Linked DNA regions of Homo sapiens: region 1 is linked to region 2. The links come from fine-mapping of genetic effects on gene expression. A gene starts in region 2. The other region holds a variant in brackets. All regions are shown on one strand. Distances are between the middles of the regions.

Region 1 (2,500 bases), 48 kb before region 2:
TAGCTGGGCTTGGTGGTGCGTGCCTGTAGTCCCAGCTACTCGGGAGGCTGAGGCAGGAGAATGGTGTGAACCCGGTAGATGGAAGTTGCAGTGAGCCGAGATCACGCCACTGCACTCCAGCCTGGGTGACAGAGTGAGACTCTGTCTCAAAAAAAAAAAAAAAAAAGAAAGAAGGAAAGAGGTACCACTTGGTTGGCAGCCTAGTAGGGGAGCCCTGCAAAGGAAGAGCCAGAGCTTGTCCCCATCCAAGCTCAGAGCCTTCCTTTGAGTACCTGGGGGTCTGGGTCGAAGGCAGCCTACTTGGGACTCTTGCTCCCATGGACAGAGTACCTTGGGAGAAGCAGAGTTGCCTCTCTGCTCCCTGAAGCCCACTCTCTTCACTCTCCTCCCACAGCTAGCTATCCTAGAAGACTATGCGGACCCGTTTGATGTTCAGGAGACTGGCGAAGGCTCAGCAGGAGCTTCAGGAGCCCCAGAGAAGGTCCCTGAAAATGATGGCTACATGGAGCCCTATGAGGCTCAAAAGATGATGGCCGGTGAGTGACAGGGGCAGGGGAGGTGCTCCCTGAGGCCTGGGCTCTGCAGAACAGGCTTTGCGACTCACAAGTCTAAGGACTGATTCTTTGGTCCCTGGAAAATATGGAGAAAGTCTTTTCCAGGTCCTTAGGGAGGATGGTCATTGCCTTTCAGAGTCATTTTGGAGAAGCAGCTGTGACCTGTGAGACCTGAAGTGGTATAGGAGGCCACACAACTGAAGTTCAGATAGAAGTATTCAAGATAGGAAGGAAAAGAGTGGTGAGGGCTGGGAGGATCAGTGATCCCAAAAAGAGAACCACTAGCCTTGGGAGGGGGGATGAGTTTGAAATGAAACATCTTCATGGCAGTTGGAGAAAGATGACTAGAAATACAGTTACAGTGGGTGCCATGAGCCTGGGCAAGTAGTCCAAAGAGTGAGGCTAGAGAGAAAAGAGTAAGATCTGGTCTTGGGAACAGAGGCTGAGAGACAGTCCAGGGGAAAGAGATCAAATAGGGGAGATCAGAGAGGACAGGGTGGGTCTGTCCAAGCCACGGCCCTGAGGCAGGGTGAGAGGAAGTTTGTTCAGGAGCAAATGATGTTAGTGCTGGGTGTGCATGGGAACCTAGATGAGAGAGTCCGAGAGGGGCGGAGCAGTGCTTCATAGGCTGGAATGAGGTATCTGGACTT[G/C]CTTCAAAATGGGGAGTGGAGCCATGATGAATTCTTGAGCAAGAGAGGAACAGGATGAAAATGTCAGCTTTATTACTGATAAAGTTGATTAGAGAACATTACTTATGTTCACTGCAATGGGCTTATGTGTCATCACAATGGGCTTCTTAATACTTCACCACAGAATTAAACTTGCCCAATCAGGCTTGGGCAACTCAGTAGGCCTAGTGGGGGAACCCTGCAAAAGAAGAGCCAGAGCTTGTCCCCATCCAAGCTCAGAGCCTGCCCTTGGGTACCTGGGGCTCTGGGTCAAAGACAGCACAGGAGCAGGCCACTGACTGCATGAACCAGAATGTTCTTTCTCTTCAGGAAAAGAGAGTGTGCATTCACTGACCAATACAATAAACTGCTCTTCCTACTTGGGAGAGGTGGTAAGGGAGGCAGAGAGTGGTCAAGAATATCCCAGGACTATTATTCCATGGAGCTCTTGGAAACACAAGCCTGCAGAATGGAGGTTCACCCTAGCAGTAATCTATATACGGAAAGATGAGGGTGAAGGTCACTGGGTATTGGCAAAGAACAGATGGGATTTGAAGAATGAAGGAGGGCCAGGTCCAAGGAGAACAGTGTAGTAGACAGAAATGGAGAAAGTGAGAAGCTGACTACCCCATTTAGGTCAGAGGGTGTGGAACCCAGGAAGCCCCCATGAATGCCCTGAAATTATATGTGAAAATATGGGAGCACATTTTTTGGGGGAGTAGCTCCATAGCTTTTATCATATTTTCACTGGGGTCAGTGATCCCAATAAAAGAACTACTAGCTTTGGAGAAGGTGGTCAGTTTGAAACAATGGTATGTCAAAGCGAAAGGTCTTTATGGCAATGGACCCAAATGACTGGAAATACAGATGCAGCAAGTGCCATGAGGCTGGGCATACAGTTCAAGGAATTAGGATAGGGAAAAATGCATAAGACCTAGTCTTGGGAAAGAGAGGCCAAGAGAGGATCTAGGGAGAGGCCAAATGGGGGTGATCAGAAAGAAAGTCTTTGCCGGGTCCGTGGGGAGGATGGTCACTGCCTTTCCAATAGTCATTTTGGAGAAGCAGATGTGACTTGTGTGACCTGAAGTGGTACAGGAGGCCACACAACTGAAGGTCAGATATTAGCATTCGAGATAGTCAGGAAGGACAAAATAATGGTGAGGGCTGGGTCAGTGATCCCAAAAAGAGAACCAATTAGCTTTAGAGAAGGTGATGAGTTTGAAACCATGGAATGTCAAAGTGAAAGGTCTTTATGATGATGAACGTAACTTGTCGAAG
Region 2 (3,014 bases):
AATTCAAAGCAAGTGACAGGTGTTGGGCAAATGTGATATAGAGAGGGTAGGCGGGAGCTTGTCTCCTCTGGTTGGATCCAGAAGGGATGCACTACCAGGTGCTCATGTATTTAGTGCAAGCTTCCTGCTCTCTCTCTCTCCACCCAGAGTCAACAGGGAAACAGAGGCAGCAGAGGACTCAGGCTGGGACTCCTGAGTGCGAGTAAGGAGTACCTAAAGCCGGCGAAGACCTCCTGAAGGCAACCTGGAGATTGGGGTTAGGATAGAGGAAGAAAGGAGCTCAGGGAAAGCCTCATCCCCAGCCAAACATCAGGGTTCCTGGATGGGTTGTCTAGAGGAGAGAACCCAGGGAGTGACCTCATCCCTACTCCATCTCCTATTAAATGAAAAAACCTAGGCCCTGCCATAACTGGAAAGCTCAGTATCACCTGCTGCATTTCACAGAGTCTGTCCAGGTGCTGGCCTTTAATAGTGCATGAAGAGCTGGGCTCTGGATGGTTGAAGCTGTAAAGCTGGATATACGGAAGTAGCCACAGCGGTCCTTCCCTGATCCCAAGATGTCATTCCCCTCCCCCGCCACCACCATGTCTTCAGGATCCTGGGCCTCAACGCTAATGTACCACTCAGCCCCTAAGGGCATGAAATGGGCTTTCAGACCAGGCTGTGTGGGGATGACCTGAAGAGGAAGGTGGACATGCTTAATAACCACTCCTTGTGGGTGGGTTGCCCTTAATGATTTACACAACGATGGGGCAGTAACTTCTCAACAACCTTGACAGGAAGGTTGCCCAGGACAGGGCAGTGAAGCCCCAGGCAGAGCCAGCGGCAGAACCAGAGAGAGAACACAGGCCTGCCTGTTCTTGCCCCACATGGCTGCTTTTCCAGCCTGAAGCCCTAGAGTGGTGACCCTGGTGGCCCTGAGGTGGGAGGAAGATGGGTCAAGGCCATCTTGGTCCTAAGGGAGGGCTGAGGGGGAAAGCTTGGATCCTAAAGCCCAAAGCTCCCTCCCTGGTATGTTGTGCTGGTGCCAGGAGAAGAACCCGCAGGCCCAGGCAAACTAGGCCACCCAACATTCCCAGGTCCCAAAGAACCCAGTCTCTCAAAACCTTGATTGGGCAGAGGACAGGCCCTAACAGGACCGGTTTTAGCCTTAGGATAAGATCGGAGGCGCAGGGGGCTAGCATTCCCCTTTCTTCCATAACGTGGAGGAGCTGCGGCTCCCCCGCCACCCTGCCCTTGGAGCTCCCTCCCCCGGAGCGCCCAGGCCCGCGGGCCGGGAAAAGCCCTCCCAAATCTGACCTGCGGCCACGGCGTCACCAGAGCCCGGGACTGCAACTTGTCTCCGGCCTGGCTGCCAGCTGGGCCCGCGGAGCCCTCTCTCGTCCGGTGCCTCTGCAGCTCTGCGCCGGGACGGGCGGGGCTGGGGGTGAGGAGGGGAAGGCACGGCCCGGCTCGGCTCAGCCACGGGGCGGGGCGCAGTGGGGCGGGATGGAGTCTGGCGCCTGGGGAGGCGCGGAGGTGCTTCCAGCGGACGGCAGCGCGCGAGGTGAGACGGCGAGGGCTCCCGGGGCGCAGGTAGAGATGTTCCGTCGGTGCCGAAGGCCCGGCTAGTGCGGTTGTGTGGACGGCGAAAAAAGCAAGTCCGCCTTCACAAGTCCCATGGGGCTGGGGAGAGGGTGGGAGGCGGAGAGGGTATGGGGAGGGGAGACTCTCCTCAGATCCTCTCGACACCGTCGGGTCTGGGCTCCAAGTCCAAGGCCATCGATCACCTGCCACCCACAGACCAGGCCAGGCGTCAAAGCAAGTCACCCATCCGACCTAAACCCCTCTAAGACCCCGGAGTCACGTCTCCCTCCGGGGATCCTCGTGAGGTCTTGGGGGTCCCACCGCCCTGCGAGCCGCGCCCGCGCCCCGCCAGACCCGGAACTGCGTCGCTAGGTTTGCGCTGGAGCTGCTGGGATTGCTGGGCATGGGTGGGGGGGCGCAGAGGAGGAGGGGGGATTGGAGGGACCTCTGCGGAGCTGGCAGACCCCGGTACTACTGTCCTGGCGCACCCAGCCCTTCTCTGTACCAGGCCGGGAGAGGGAGGCGGCGCCGCAGAGCCTCGGGTGCAGTCTGAGAAGTTTGGGAGTGACTTGAAGAGTGACTGGAAGCACCCCAGACCCGGTTTGTCCGGTCACAGCCGGGTCCTTACGTGAGTTAGGAGAGGAGTGGGGGTCGGACGGGAGCCCCACTGAGAGTAAGGGCGCGCGTTTGTTCACAGAACGTCGGGACCTGGTTCCCTCTTTAATCACACCCCCGGGGGCGCTTCGTGTGAGGTTCCACGGGGGAAGGCGAGAGGCGCAGGCTGCCACACACGCACTGTTTGGAAGAGGGGAAGGTAGGGAATAGTGGTCCGGGTGTGGGTGGTGGGGGATGCGGCTGCTTAGATCTGTGCGGTCCAGGTGATTTTGGAGGGGGTCTTGAAGTGCTTGCTCCCGCCCTGGCACCTAGGGCTGCACTTCCTGCTTTCATCCAGACCAAGTTCGGATCAAGTGGGAGTTCTTCAAAGAGAGAGTTTGGTAAGAAACTGGGGAGGCAAGGAAAACCTCTTAAGGCCATAAATGCCACAAGGTTTATAGACATCGAATCGCCATCCCAGTTTAACTCGAGTCTGGATACTTTGGCTTGCATGATTCTGCACCCTTGAATTCCTTATCCACATCAGCCCTTACTGGGGAATCCTGCCTCCAATCCACTTTTCAGATCTTGTTCAATTTCTCCACTTAACTCCTATTTTTGTGCAACAACACACATATACATTCATACACAGATACACACGTACACACAGACCCCTTCCTTGAAGAGGAAAGTCTAGCACAGGAGTTCCTGACAGGGTCCCCTTAGCTAGCCACAGCTGTAAACGTTTAATGGGGTCTACCCCAATCAGAGAAAAAAGCATCACATTGCAGTAGCTGTGCATTACCAATCAGAGGTCTTGGCAACTCCAGCCATGTCACCCACTCCCCACTTGT

Which allele goes with the higher level. Alleles are on the strand shown, and positions count from the first base shown. SD is a standard deviation of normalised expression in the study named.
In carriers of allele C in region 1, the expression in unexposed skin of the gene that starts at base 1,519 in region 2 tends to be lower than with G alone (small effect, 0.19 SD a copy in GTEx).

What was found. PIP is the estimated chance that this variant, and not a neighbour inherited with it, causes the effect. A credible set is the group of variants that fine-mapping cannot tell apart.
Region 1: its variant is the best candidate, but not a certain one, in a credible set for the expression of DUOXA1 in unexposed skin (GTEx, PIP 0.55).

What each region holds. Positions count from the first base shown.
Region 1 is chr15:45,176,201-45,178,700 of GRCh38, reverse strand. It overlaps SHF (Src homology 2 domain containing F), which reads left to right. Exons shown (of 7, transcript NM_001394037.1): 2 at 395-536. It overlaps LOC124903481 (a long non-coding RNA gene), which reads right to left and starts at 397. Exons shown (of 2, transcript XR_007064608.1): 1 at 1-397. The variant G/C (reference allele first, on the strand shown) is at 1,205.
Region 2 is chr15:45,128,384-45,131,397 of GRCh38, reverse strand. It overlaps DUOXA1 (dual oxidase maturation factor 1), which reads left to right and starts at 1,519. Exons shown (of 9, transcript NM_001276266.2): 1 at 1,519-1,546; 2 at 1,783-1,938; 3 at 2,264-2,380. DUOX1 (dual oxidase 1) reads right to left here and starts at 1,404. Exons shown (of 34, transcript NM_175940.3): 1 at 1,300-1,404.